2 linked regions of the Homo sapiens genome follow. The protein of the gene in region 2 binds, or shares a complex with, the protein of the main gene of each other region. Links are inferred from orthologs where the notes say so. Each region holds a gene or a part of one and is shown on either strand. Other genes may lie near its edges.

Region 1 (7,402 bases), on a different chromosome or scaffold from region 2:
AAGCCCACCTGGGAAGAGTGACAGCATGGGGAGGCACGCGTAGGCCTGAGCCGCTCCACAGCCCTGGGGAGGGCAGAAAAGGAGGAAAGTAGGCAGTGCAAGAAACAGGAGGAAACCCCCCAGAGCGCAGCCTCCTGGAAGCGGAAGGGAGCACTGAAGAGGAGGTGGTTAGTGGTGTCAGAAGCTGCTGAGAAGCCAGTTAGATAAAGCGGAGAAGCTTCCTACTAGGACAGCTTCCTCCCAGCCCAGTGTGGCCACGCTGGTGTCCTCGGTGACCAGACACGTGGCCATGAATTTCTCAGTGTGCTTTATTGTTGATTAAATGCAGTCGGCTCACGAGGCTGACTTTGGAAACAGGAGGTCCGTGGGTCGTGGAATAAGAAAGGGCATCATGGTTGCAGAGGAAGGGAAGGAAGCCCACGGCTGCCTTGGGGAGCTTTCTGAAAGGCAGGTCTGATCATGCCTCTCTGGGCTACGGTCTCCTCACGGTGGCTCCTGGTTGGAACTGAAGTGGTCCCCTTGGTCCCTCTCTCCCATCTCAGCATTAGCCAGGACTTCTGGCTTGGCAGCCCCAGCAGGCTGCCCCTTGCAACACCTCTTTTCCACATGATCGTGCCTTCCAAACCTACTTCCAGCGTCGCCCTCTTCAGGGAGCCTTTCATAACCACCTCCCCCTTCCACTGGCTAAAGATGAGGTTGAGCAACTGCAGGACTTGGGACCTTGTTCCTGCCCCTGTGGCTGCCTGGATCCAACTGTGTGGTAATGTCTCTGCTTCTAGGTGACTCCCCTGCTAGACCGAGAGGCCTGGGAGAGCTAACATGGACCATGGGTGGTGCTGAGCCTGTCTCATGCATCTGCTCAGCAAATCTGCACAATAACTCCATAAAAGCCTCTTTTGACCAGTGAGGAAAGTGAGGCTCAGACAGGAGAAGGTGCCTGTCCCAGGTCACACAGCTGAGCAGCAGGGATGGGTTTTGAGCTCACCCCTAACACCACAGCCATGGCGCCAATGGACACCCTATGCCCGGCATAGGGCAGGGTGCATGCTAGGTGCTCATGAAATGTTTGCTGAAGGAATAAGCAAGCCAAGACAGGCAGCCCACTGGCACCTCTGGGGAGGCAGTGGCCAGGGTGGAAGCAAGACTCATTCCACCAGGACTCATTCCACCGCACCACCCAGCCCCTGGCGTGCTCTAAGACGGGTGTCTTCCCTCCTTCCAAGAAGGCGGGGGAGGGAAGCCCAGCACTGGGTCTCACCAGTTGTTGACTTTGGGTGGCTTCCAGAGCAGGCACCCACTCAAGGGACTTCAGGAAAGTGCTGGGGGTGGGGTGGGGCGGGAAGGGGCAGCCATTTCACCTCTTCACTCTCAGCTGCTTTAGGGCTCACCCCTGCCCGCCTCACCTAGGACCTGACACCCATGTTTGTTTCTCTCACTGATCAATGTTGGGCTTCACATTGTTGGACCGGTTCTTGTTGCTTCCACATGCAACAGGCCAGGCAGCCACCTGCCTTGCACCTGGGATGGACTTAGGAGAAGGCAGAGGACCATTTCTAAAAGGTGGGGACAATCCCTTCTTAAAGTTTTCTCAGATCCTCTGGGGAAGATGCCTGGGTTCTAGTTTATGTCCAGCTCCCTGGTGTCTCTGGTCCATTTGTCACCCCTCCTCAGGGAAACCCTCTCTCATCCTCGGGCTGAGGCTGACTGTCTGTATAACACACTCGCCCCTCAACACCACTGCAATTGACATTTATTTGTGTTTTTGGAGATGGGTATCCATCTCCCCTACCAGCCTGTGAACACCGTAAGAACACAGATTGTTGAGCCCTGGCACATGACTCACACCTGTAATCCCAGCACTTTGGGAGGCTAAGACAGGTGGATCACTCGAGGTCAAGAGTTCGAGACCAGCCTGGTCAACATGGTGAAACCCTGCCTCTACTAAAAATACAAAATTTAGCTCGGCGTAGTGGCAGGTGCCTGTAATCCCAGCTACTTGGGAGGCTGAGGCAGGAAAATTGCTTGAACCCGGGAGGCGGAGGTTGCAGTGAGTGGAGATTGCACCACTACACTCCAGACTGGACGACTGAGCATGACACTATCTCAAAAACAAAACAAAAAAAAAGGGACTGTTTTTTGCTAAACACAAATCGACCCCAGGCTTAGTACCCTGCCCGGCATTAGTAGGTGCTCCCCAGATATCAGCTGAATAAACGAATGATTCTGGATCGGACTCCTAGACTTGCTACTTCTCTGTGACCATTGTGACCTTGGTCAGGTTGCTTCACCTCTCCATGCCTCAGTTTCTCCCTCTATAAAACGGCACTCGTGATCACCACTCACCTCACCTAATCCTTGTAACTCACTATCACAATGAACGTGGAGAAATTCCTACTGAGAGAAAGTGCACGATAAACAGAAGCTGTAACGCCCTGAGAAGGCGGGACTGGCTCGAGAGCACCCAGTCCCCGCCACGCCTCGCCACCCCCGGCCAAGGGTCGCGCAGCCCCTGGACGCCCTGCCTGGCTCCGAGGCCGGCTGCGGCCCCGCTTCTGGGTCCTCCACCGAGGCCCGAGCCCCCGGCCCCGGCGCCGGGGAGCAGAGGGCGGTGCAGTCAGTTACCTGGCAACGCGGTGGCTGCAGCCCACCGCGTTACGTAGCAACAGGGCGGGGATTACCCACTTAAGACCCCCGCCCGGTTACCCAGAAACAGGATGGGGCTCTCAGGTGAGGTCTACCGGCCTCTCTGCCTCACACCAGGATGGGGCTCATAAGCCGGTTACCTAGCAACAGGGTGGGTCCCCGCGGGCGGAGGCCCCTGCCGGTTGCCTGGCAACAGGGAGGGTGGGGAGCCCTCAGTACCTTGCCCTTCAGGTCCAGCACGTAGACGGCGCTGGCGGACATGATGGCTGCAGGAGGCCTCGGCAGCGGCCGAGGGCGGTGGCGGCGGCAGCGACGGTGGGGACTGCTGGGCGTTGAGCAAGGCCGGGCGCCGCCCGCGACAGCTCACCTCCACTTCCGGTTCGGGGAGCCGCGCGGGGACCGTTATGTCCGGTCCGGGAGGTGCTGTCAGGAATGCGCAGGCGCAGGACGGACTGTGCGCAGGCGCATTACGTCGTATGTAACCATGTTTCTTGCTCCCGCCAGAAGCATCCCGGAAGTAAGGCCCGGTGGGGCGGGGCCGACCAAATCAGGGCACCCAGTGGCCGCTGCCAGGCTGAGCTATGGAGCCAGAGCAGCTGGAAACGGCCTCCCGTGGGCCGAGTTAGGCGAGAGAGCCTGGTGGTGAAACCGACCTGGGGCCCAGCCCTATGGAGCTCACAGTCTGGTGGGGAAGTCTATGAAACAAGTGTACAGTCACCAATTGTGATAAGCTCAAAAGAGAGAGGTAAGGTCGTGGTTACTTGGAAAGAGGTCAAACAAACTTTCTGAATGGCAATCAAACCTTATCAACAGTCACCACCTGTCATTGTCAACATTTATCAATGAATGAGTGTGCCTGTTTATTGCCTGGAATGTTATGAAAACCAGCCTCACTGAACCTTGACCCAACATACCGTGTTTCATTTCTGCAAAGTTAGTAATCAGTAATGCAACTGGTGGCCCTTGATTAATCCATTGAGTCATATTTAATTTGCTTTTATGAACTCTTGGGCTTTGGAGAAATGCCTGCATTCTGTTCCAGTTAGCCATCATAGTACCCTGGGGATCCCAACCCTGCAATACCAGAGTGATTTACCCAGGATGCCTGCCTCTCACATCTTTTATTTTCTGTCTTATCTCCGTTTTGGCGTTTGGAAAGATGATTTTTGCAACTCGGTAATTATATAGTGTTTTGCTTAGGAAAGAAATGTGACCGAAACTCTAGAGAAGCAAACTAGAATGTTTGAAGACTGCTAAGTGACTCCTGGGCTGGAAGGATTCTTGCTCAAGGCACAGAGCAAGCAGCCAAGAGAGGGTTTTTGTTGTTTGCTTTTTTTTTTTTTTTTTTTTTTGAGATGGAGTCTCACTCTGTCACCCAGGCTGGAGTGCAATGGCATGATCTCGGCTCACTGCAACCTCTGCCTCCTGGGTTCAAGTGATTCTCTTGTGTGTCAGCCTCTCAAGTGGCTGGGATTACAGGCATGTGCCACCACACCTAGCTAATTTTTGTATTTTTAGTAGAGACGTGGTTTCACCATGTTGGCCAGGCTTGTCTCAAACTCCTGACCTCACGTGATCCACCCACCTCGGCCTCCCAAAGTGCTGGGATTACAAGGGTTAAGTTAAATATTAAAAGATAAGAGAGCCAGTGCCCTTATACAAAGGCTGGGATGTAACAAAAGCCCACCCAGAGTTGTGCCTAGGCCTTTCCTGGGCCTTGAAGCATGACAAGATAATGAAGGAATTCTTAACAGGACCCTTTTAGGATTAAACAAGCTTTATTGGCGGTCTGAAGAAACTCCTCAGGCCTCCACAAACAAGTTTATTGGGGTTTGAAGGAACTCCCCCAAACCTCCATGATTTAGCAGGAGATAAGATAAGGGTAATCACCCCAGCACCTGGACCCACTTAGATTAAGTAAATTTACTGAGGCTCCAGAGGAAGGTCTTCAGGACTCAGATCTTAGTTATGGGTTAAAAGACTATAACTTACTTACGTCTTTAGATGAATGCACACCTACACGTAGACATATAGCTTAGAAGGTATATGAGCTCTGGAAGACTTTGTAATTTTGGGTTGGTCTGGTGATATTTTCCAGGCCTTCTCCCTGTAACCAGTTACAGAAATAAAAACTCTCTTCCTCCCTAGTTCATCTGTGTCTCATTATTGGGCTGTGAGATATAGAAGCCCAACCCTCAGTTTGGTCTGGGAATAGGTTAGGAGTGGGGGTCTCAAAAGCCCCCCCAATACAACACACACAATAAGAACCACTGAGGCCTGAAAGCCATGTATAGAGATTTTGTTTTAATTGGTCTGGGCCAGGGTTTGGTTATTGGGATTTTTCTTTTTTTTAATTTTTTTTTTGAGACAGAGTCTCACTCTGTCACCAGGCTGGCATGCAGTGACACGATCTCGGCTCACTGCAACCTCTGCCTTCCAGGTTCAAGTGATTCTCCTGCCTCAGCCTCCCAAGTAGCTGGAACTATAGGTGCCTGCCACCATGCCCAGCTAATTTTTGTATTTTTAGTAGAGACGGGGTTTCACCATGTTGGCTAGGATGGTCTTGATCTCTTGACCTTGTGATCCGCCCGCCCCACCTCCCAAAGTGCTGGGATTACAGGTGTGAGTCACCGCGCCTGGCCTTCTTTTCCTTTCTTTTTTTTTTTTTTTGAGGCACGGTCTTATCCTGTCACCAGGCTGGAGTGCACTGGTGCAATCTCGGCTCACTGCAACCTTCACCTCCTTGGCTCAGCTGGGACTACAGATGCACACCATCAAGGCCAGCTAATTCTGGTTTTTTGTTTTTTTTTTTGAAACAGGGTCTCGCTCTGTCACCCAGGCCGGAGTGCAGTGGTGCAATCTCAGCAGCTCATTGCAACTTCTGCCTCCTGGGTTCAAGCGATCCTCCAACCTTAGCCTCCTGAGTAGCTGGGACTACAGATGTGTGCCACCAGGCCCAGATCAGTTTTTGTATTTTTAGTAAAGATGGGGTTTCACTATGTTGGCCAGGCTTAATTTTGCGATTTTTGTACAGATGGGGTTTCCCCATGTTGCCCAGGCTGGTCTCAAACACCTCGGCTCAAGTGATCTGCTCGCCTTGGCCTCCCAAAGTGCTGGGATTAAAGGCATGAGCCACTGCGCCCAGCCTGGTTATTGGGATTTTTTTCCAAGCTCCCCAGATGATGCTAATAGGAAACAAAATTTGAGAAACCCTGGTGTATCATAATAGGTATGATCTTTCTTTCTTTTTTTATTTTATCTTTTTGAGACTGAGTCTCAAATAAAAAAAAAAAAAAAGTTGCTTGGTTCTATGGCTCATGCCTGTAATCCCAGCACTTTGGGAGACAGAGACAGGAGGATCACTTGAGCCCAGGAGTTTCAGACTAGCCTGGGGAACATGATGAAACCCCATCTCTACAAAAAATACAAAAATTAGCTGAGTGTGGTGGCACACACTTGTAGTCCCAGCTACTTGGGAGGCTGAAACAGAAGAATCACTTGAACCTGGGAGGTTGACAAGGCTGCAGTGAGCTATAGTGGCATCACTGTACTCCAGCCTGGGCAACAGAGTAAGATCTCTAAAACATTACAATAAATGGGGCAAAATATGAGACTAGGTCCAACAGGGTTTGTTACATATCGCGTCTATTTCTGTTAACTCTTGGTGAACAGACCCTGATGTTCTTCCTGAGCAGTGGGAAGTCACAGCTGTGGCCGGGCTTGGTGGCTGACACCCACAATCCCAACACTTTGGGAGGCCGAGGCAGGAGGATCACTTGAGGTTGAGGCCAGTAGTTTGAGACCTGGGCAACATAGGGAGACCCTATCTCTACAAAGAGATAAATAAATCAGCTGGGTATGGTGATGTACACTTGTGATCCCAGCTACTCAGGAGGTCGAGGTGGGAGGATCACTTCAGCCTGGGAGGTCAAAGCTGCAGTGAGCCGTGATCACACCACTGCACTCCAGCCTGGGCAAGAGAATGAGACCCCATCTCAAAATAATAATAATGGTAATAATAATAGTCCTGACATCTCATCGGATTCCTTCTAGAGCTTAATCACTGGGCAATTAGTATCAAAAGCCTCTCTTGGCTGGGCATGGTGGTTCACGCCTGTAATCGCAGCACTTTGGGAGGCCGAGGCAGGTGGATCACCTGAGGTCAGGAGAGTTTGAGACCAGCCTGGCCAACATACCGAAACCCTGTCTCTACTAGAAATACAAAAATTAGCCGGGCACGGTGGTGCATGCCTGGAATCCCAGCTACTCCAGAGGCTGAGAGGCAGGAGAATTGCTTGAACCCGGGAGGCAGAGTTGCAGTGAGCCGAGATCGCACCAATGCACTCCAGCCTGGGCAATGAGCGAAATGCCATCTCCAAAAAAAAAAAAAAAATTAACCACTTAGTCAGTACTTAAACAGTCATTATGAAGGCCGGAGGCCTGCATTAGTGAGACCTGGCCTGCCACAACACTCCCTACACACAATAAGAATCTCTGTTCTCCAGGCTCGCTTTGAACTCCTGGGCTCAGGCAACCCTCCAGCCTCAGCCTCCTGAGCAGCTGGGATTACATTTGCATACGTCGCACTGTGCCTGGCACCAGAACTTGGCGGTTTTTAATGCTCCCCAGGTGATTCTAATGTAAATTTGAGGACAGCGGTGGTGGACTGTAAGGGTATTGGATCCCAGTAAACCACACCTCCTAGTGTTCATGCCCTTGTGGAGTTCCCTGCCAGACTCCGGGTTTGGCTAGGTGGCTT
Region 2 (7,328 bases):
CAACATGACAAAACACTATCTATACAAAAAATACAAAAATTAGCCCTGCGTGGTAGCACACGCCTGTAGTCCCAGCTACGTGGAGGGCTGAGGCAGGAGGATCGCTTGAGTCCAGGAGGTCCAGGCTGCAGTGAGCTGAGACCACTGCACTCCAGCCTGGGCAACAGAGTGAGACCCTGTCTCAAACAATAAAAATAATAAAAAAAAAAAAAAAGAGTTTTTATAAATCATAAAGAAGTTGGTTTTGTTTGCATACCACTGATTTTTAAAACTCCTTTTTTAAATAAACACTGGGGTGAAATATCACCAAGGCATTCCTGGCAAATTCTGTACTTTAAAGTTTCACTCTAAAATCTGCCCTCAAATCTAGAACTGCTATCAATGACAGAGGTCAGACCAAAGAACAAGCAACTGCCCCCAAAAGAAAACGGAGGTTTCCTAAACGCAAAGCAGACATTCAAATATGCACTGATCAATGGTGCACTAAACAACACTTTGCTAGGAATTTGTTAAGGCAAAAGGACCCTTTCTACAGTGAATGCAAACTATCTAAGAATGAATTTTTAAAAGTTTAATATTTTTAAATATTTTGGTAGAGACGGAGTCTCATTAGGTTGCCCAGGCTGGCCTCCAACTCCTGGGCTCAAGGGATCCACCTTCCACCTCCCAAAGTGTTGGGATTACAAGCATGAGCCACTGAGCGCCCGCCTGAATGACATTTAAATACCAATATATTAAAGCATGAAAAACACTGAGTTAACTAACATCTATGTGATAGCTCTTCTAACACCTTACTTGAAAAGTCTAAGTCAGAAATGGAACATTTCAGTAGTAACTGCGAGGGCATACTTACTAAATGAGTGAGCATTACATAGGTGTTCAGTGTTTGACAGTTCCTTTAAACCAAAAGAGAAAATTCCATTGCTTCAGGGTAATACAGAACTCACGTATCTAATAGTAACTAATATATTTTTGAAAAATCTGCTTAAATAACAAGATCACTGAGTATTTAAACTGAAAATATTGTTTTCTTCTGAGACATCATATGACCTATAGAGGAATTTATCTACAATCTCATTTCAATAACCTGATAATAATAATGCATCTATAAGTGGCTTAGCAATATTAAAAAGCTTGACTCAATTCAAGTTATAAATTTAAACTTCAACCACTAGACTGTGATCTCAAATAAGTTAATTTCTCTTTTGCAGATGTGAAAACCCAGGCTGAGATGAAATAAGGGTGATTCAATCACACTCGCCTAACTTGAAACGTAGGAAATGTATCAGTGAATAACTGTGAAATACTTTTTGCCAGGCACGGTGGCTCACGCCTGTAATCCTAGCACTTTGGGAGGCCGAGGCGGGCGGATTACCTGAGCTCAGGAGTTCGAGATCTGCCTGGGCAACATGATGAAACCCCATCTCTACTAAAATACAACAACAAAAAATTAGCCGGGCGTGGCGGCGTGTGCCTGTAGTCCCAGCTACTTGGGAGGCTGAGGCAGGAGAACTGCTTGAACCCGGGAGGCGTAGGTTGCAGTGAGCCGAGACCGTGCCACTGCACTCCAGCCTGGAGACAGAGGGAGACTTCGTCTCAAAAAATAAATAAATAAAAATAAAGACATACTTTTTATTCAAGCATGCTAGACTGCAAACATGCCTTTAGAATAAAAGTGACGAGATTACGAGTACTTAGAGGGTTCATATTTTTCAAACGTGAAAGTTAGGGTGTGTGACAAGTTAGGTATTTGACAAGTATTCTAGGGAACGGTGGAAGTGAATATTTAAAATTCAGCTATCCCCAGAAAAACCCAATACATGAAATCATTACAAGTATTTTTTAGAATCAGTCAGCAAAGATCATTACTGTACAAACACTTCAAAGTTAAGGTCACTAAGAAAGCACTAACTCCTCCCTTCTGTTAACTAATCACTGTAAAGCAGCCCAACTCTCCTTTCTACCTACCTCAGATTAATATTTTTCTCCATGGACAGATTTCCGTGCTCAGGGATATATAATAGGGGAGAAAAAAAAATACCACACAAGTGTCAGTAAGCACCAAAAAGCTAAGTATTCAGCACAGGGAGGGAATCCACATATGAGAAAACATTTGACAGCTCTTGCCTCCCAAAAGCCATTTAATCTGCTTCATAAACATAATCTGCTTCATAAACATTACCCTGAGCGAGTGGTTCGATGGATCTCCTACACCGAGTCCTAACCGGGAAACACAATCAACCGAACCGTCCCGACTCTTTCAGGCAATCAGGAAGACCGGGAGAATTATTAGACGCTGACGTCCGCAGGGCCAGGAGCTGAGAAAAGGGTAAACAGTATACTCGCAGGTAGGTTGAAAAAAACAAAACAACAACATATACACACACACACGAAAAATTGGGAAAGAAGTTGGTCGGAAGGTTAGAGAGAGGCGAGGCCGATGTCCGGTTCCGAGAGGACGGCACTGCAGGGGCAGGCAGCGATTAACTGGGCATTTGGATATGCTGGGAGTTATCTGACAGACCTGACACGGGTACAAGACACAAGAACGCTGATACGTGGCTCAGAGAAGACACGCGGGGGTGGGGCCCGCCCCGCTAAACCCCAGGCTCCCTGAATGAGCCCTCAAAGATCGCAGCCTGAGAAAGTCAAGGGTTCAAGGAGGCCCGTACCGGCGGGGCAACGCCACAACACGGAACGCCGCGGCGCGCGGAACCTCCCGGTCCGAGGCCTCGGGGTCGGCCCTCCAGAAGTCGGAGCAGCCCCTGGGGCTCCCGGCCTCTCCTGGCCCAGCTTCTCTGTCTTCTCTTCTCAACACCCACAGCCTGGGACTGGACCCCTGAAACTGAAAGGAAGCTTCCGGTCGAGCGCCCGCGGCAGCGGCGGGGCAAAAGCAGCAATATGCTCTCAGCGCCGGGAGTGACACTCACCGGCCCGAAACCTCGAATGAAACCAGCAGCTCCGGGGGCGGCGGCAGCAGTGGCAGCAGGAACCGAACATCCAAAATGGCGGCTCCCTCGGCCTCACCACCGCTACCGCAGGCGGAGGGATCCTGAGGAAGGAGGGAGTTTTTAACTAACTTCACACACTATTGAGGAAACTTCGCTCCCTGTCCTCCTCTCCTGGTCGTTTCCGTGTCCTCGTACTGCAACTTATCGTGCCTTTTCTCTCGAATTATCCAAGAACTCGGACCCTGCCGAGGACTATTTGCCAAGGAGGAGGCGACTGCTCCTGGCAGAGCGACGCAAACGTAGCAAGGATCGGGGCTGTCACTGATGACGCGAGACGCTGCTGCCGAGTCACCGCTGCGATGAGTCTGAGCGAGAAAGATCCGGCCTACCCCGTAGCGGACGGACATTGGTTCCGCTTGGTGAGGGGGTAGGGGGGTGGGGGGTAGGGGGGTGGGGGGGTAGGGGGGGTGGAGCTGGGCTACCAGGAAGCGGTGGAGCCACCTGGAGGGGGCGGAGCTAAGTCAGGTAGCCCAGGAAGTGAGAGCAAGCGAGACAGGTGGGGGCGGAGAAGACAGCAGGGCTGAAAAGGTCTTCGTCCACGGGAATCCCGAACTCTTTGCTGTCTCCTTTAAGATTTTTGCTTTCTTTATAACTTAAGGAGCATGCTCCAGGTGGTATTCTATGGTTTTATGGTGTCTTTGCAACATATTTTATGAAGAGTTAAGAGGATGACTGAAAAGAATGGATTCCACGCCCGGTACCGCGGTGCTTGCACTGCTCAAGTCACTTAAACTCTCCAGGGATTCAATTTCCTCATATGTAGAAAGAAGACTTGGACTCATGTTAGCTGAAACCCTTACAGAATGGGCTTTCGGTCTATGACTCCATGAATTAATAACCAGGGCCAAAGAAAGTCTAACCAGACAGTTCCTAACCTGATAAATAATTACTAACATATGACGTGAGTCTTTTCCATGTGAATGTAAAGAGGGCCTGATATCTTGGCCTGTTTAAAGGAAAGGTGACCTACCTAGACTAAAATCCTTCTGCTAGATTGGCAACAAAGTACAATACAACACAGCAGCAGGCTGGGTGCCAAAGAGAACAGAACCAACCACACAAAAAAAATTTTTTTTTTTTTTTTGAGACAAAGTCTCGCTCTGTTGCCCAGGCTGGAGTGCAGTGGCGGGATCCCGGCTCACTACAACCTTGCCTCCCGGGGTCAAGCAATTTCTCGTGCTTCAGCCTCGCAAGTAGCTGGGATTACAGGCTCCCGCCACCACGGCCGTCTAATATTTGCATTTTTAGTAGAGAGAGGGTTTCGCCATGTTGGCCAGGCTGGTCTTGAACTCCTGACCTCAGGTGATCTGCCTGCGTCGGCCTCCCAAAGTGTGGAGATGACAGGTGTGAGCCACCGGCCTGGCCAGAACTAACCACAAATCTTGAGTTTAGGATTTGGGTGTCATAGAGAGAAGGTTGCACTTTTTTCCTTAGTCATTTTCATGCAGGGATTTCAAAACACTTAACAAAAATTGCTCTAAGTAGGCCGGGCACAGTGGCTGACGCATGTAATCCCAGTACTTTAGGAGGCCGGGGTGGGCGGATCACCTGAGGTCAGGAGTTCGAGACCAGACTGGCCAACATGGTGAAACTCCATCTCCACTAAAAATACAAAATTAGCCGGGCATGGTGGTGGGCACCTGTAATCCCAGCTACTCGGAAGGCTGAGACAGGAGAATCGCTTGAACCTGGGAGGCAGAGGTTGCAGATAGCCGAGTCTGGGCGACAGAGTGAGACCCTGTCTCACAAAAACAAAAAAAAATTGAACCAAGTAGGCCCATCTGTACAATTTTGTCCCTGAACTACTGGGGCATGCCAAGTGGCTGGAAAGAAAGGAGGCCATGGGTGCGATAATAATTATCATTTGTATTATTAAATATTGATATCACATTGTTCATAAGGCACTTTCATGTGTATAATCTAATCTGACCCTCTGGACAACCTCCTGAGTCAGGCTAGGCAAGCATAAGTAACTTAGTTTTACAAATAAGGAAAAAGAGGCTCCAAGAAACTAACTTGGCTAAAAGACACATCCTCTCCCCTCCTCCACTGGGGTTCTGCTACAGAGCTATAGAGTGCCTTTTTTTTTGAGACAGAGTTTCACTCTTGTTGCCCGAGCTGGAGTGCAATGGCGTGATCTTGGCTCACTGCAGCCTCCGCCTCCCAGGTTCAAGTGATTGTCCTGCCTCAGTCTCCCAAGTAGCTGGGACTACAGGCGCATGCCACCACGCCCAGCTAATTTTTTGTATTTTTAGTAGAAACGGGGTTTCACCATGTTACCCAAGCTGGTCTCGAACTCCTGACCTCAGGTGATTCACCCACCTCGGCCTCCCAAAGTGCTGGGATTACAGGCATGAGCCACCATGCCAGGCCAGAGTGCCATTTTATAAATTAGCATAGGGTACCACAATCTTCCACCACCCCTACCTACCCACCCACCTACCTACCTACCTACCTACACACATACCTACACTCTCAGGGTGGATGGAGTCAACCCCCAACAAGTGGTTTAGAGAACAGAATGTTTACAGAATTCAGATCCTCTGCCATGCTGCTACTGTACAGTGCAACCATGGACTACAAGGCTAGTAAATAGTGGAATGAAGCCAAAACACAATTTCCTCTGAGGTATAGCTATGCAGGGAACACAGGCCAAACTTAGTTTGGGGTTTCCACATAAGTAAGAAGTTTGCAGGTTGCAAAGCAGAGTTAGCTAAAGTATTCCGTTTGGAACACCACAAAAAAATGCTTAGAGGTCAAATTTAAATGTGTATCATTGTGAACCACAAAAGAAAAATTAAGCCAGCTACCTAAGGAGGAGAGAGCTTTTTTTTTTTTTGAGACGGAGTCTCACTCTGTCCCCAGGCTGGAGTGCAGTGGCACGATCTCAACTCACTGCAAACTCCGCCTCCTGAGTTCACGCCATTCTGCTGCCTCAGCCTCCAGAGCAGCTGGGACTACAGGCGCCCGCCACCACACCTGGCTAGTTTTTTGTGTTTTTAGTAGAGACGAGGTTTCACATGTTAGCCAGGATGGTCTTGATCTCCTGACCTCGTGATCCGCCCGCCTTGGCCTCCCAAAGTACTGGGATTACAGGCGTGAGCCACCGCTCCCGGCCCCGGAAAGATCTTTTTTCCTACCATATCGAGTGCAGAGCGTTAAAGAGTTTTAAACATTAAAAACTAAACCCTTTCTCAGTACTTTTTAACTTACATTTCTCTTTATTTTGTTTTTGTTTTTGAGACAGAGTCTCTGTCGCCAGGCCGGAGTGCAGTGGCATGATCTCAGCTTGCTGCAACCTCCACCTCCCGAGTTCAAGTGGTTCTCCTGCCTCAGCCTCCCGAGTAGCTGGGACTACAGGCACGTGCCACTACATCCGGCTAATTTTTGTATTTTTAGTACAGACGGGGTTTCATCATGTTGGCCAGGCTGGTCTTGATCTCTTGACCTTATGATCTGCCCGCCTCAGCCTCCCAAAGTGCTGGGATTACAGACGTGAGCCACCGCGCCCAGGCCATTTATCTTTATTTATAATTACCAAACCCTTCTTCCATGCAACTAAAATTAAAAGCAGTTGCCCCAGCTGGGCACAGTGGCTCACACCTGTAATCCTAGCACTTCGGGGGGCCAAGGTGGGAGGATCACTTGATCCAAGGAGTTTGAGAACAGCCCAGGTAACATAGTGAGACCCTATCTTTCTTCCTTCCTTCCTTCCTCCCTTCCTCCCCCCTCCCCGCCCCTCTTTCTTTCTTTCTTTCTTTCACGGAGTTTCACTCTTGTTGCCCAGGCTGGAGTGCAATGGCACAATCTCGGCTCACTGCAGCCTCCACCTCCCGGGTTCAAGCAATTCTCCTGCCTCAGCCTCCTGAGTAGCTGGGATTACAGGCATGCGCCACCACGCCCAGCTAATTTTGTATATTTTAGTAGAGACAGGGTTTCTCCATGTTGGCCAGGCTGGTCTCGAACTCCTGGCTTCAGGTGATCCACCTGCCTCGGCCTCCCAAAGGGCTGAGATTACAGGCATGAGCCACCATGCCCGGCCTCCTCATCTTTTAAATAAATGAATAAAATAAATAAATAAAAGCAATTGCCCCAATATGTAGCATAGTCACATTATCTTGGAATCTTTGGTTTCCATGGCTAGTGATTTAAGTTTAGAAAGGCTTACTCCCCATCTTCTCAAACATAATCCCTAATTCCAGATAAATAAATTACAGCACATCTATAAAAGGTAATACTATGCTACCAATAAAATGAAAACCTTATTATTATAGTATGGCAGACTTTAAAAGGAAATATTATAAAACAATGTTATAA

Evidence for each region.
Region 1: the proteins of AP1G1 (region 2) and AP1M1 are in contact, whole or in part, in a cryo-EM structure (PDB 7R4H), measured with the Mus musculus proteins. The link is inferred for Homo sapiens from one-to-one orthologs. Residues at the interface, in NP_001288140.1 of Mus musculus: Arg24, Glu25, Gln28, Lys29, Ala32, Arg35, Ser36, Arg39, Glu40, His64, Phe65, Gln67, Leu68, Gln97, Val99; in NP_031482.1 of Mus musculus: Ser289, Asn318, Asp319, Ala320, Asp321, Ser322, Trp334, Pro336, Glu337, Asn338, Ser339, Gly361, Leu362, Pro363, Ser364, Val365, Glu366, Ala367, Glu368.

Annotation. Positions count from the first base shown.
Region 1 is NC_000019.10:16,193,529-16,200,930, reverse strand, and holds the start of AP1M1 (AP-1 complex subunit mu-1), read right to left. Parts: upstream 3,021-7,402; 5' UTR 2,905-3,020; coding exon 2,863-2,904; intron 1-2,862. UniProt on the Homo sapiens protein: Subunit of clathrin-associated adaptor protein complex 1 that plays a role in protein sorting in the trans-Golgi network (TGN) and endosomes.
Region 2 is NC_000016.10:71,805,833-71,813,160, forward strand, and holds the start of AP1G1 (AP-1 complex subunit gamma-1), read right to left. Parts: upstream 3,003-7,328; 5' UTR 2,931-3,002; intron 1-2,930. UniProt on the Homo sapiens protein: Subunit of clathrin-associated adaptor protein complex 1 that plays a role in protein sorting in the late-Golgi/trans-Golgi network (TGN) and/or endosomes.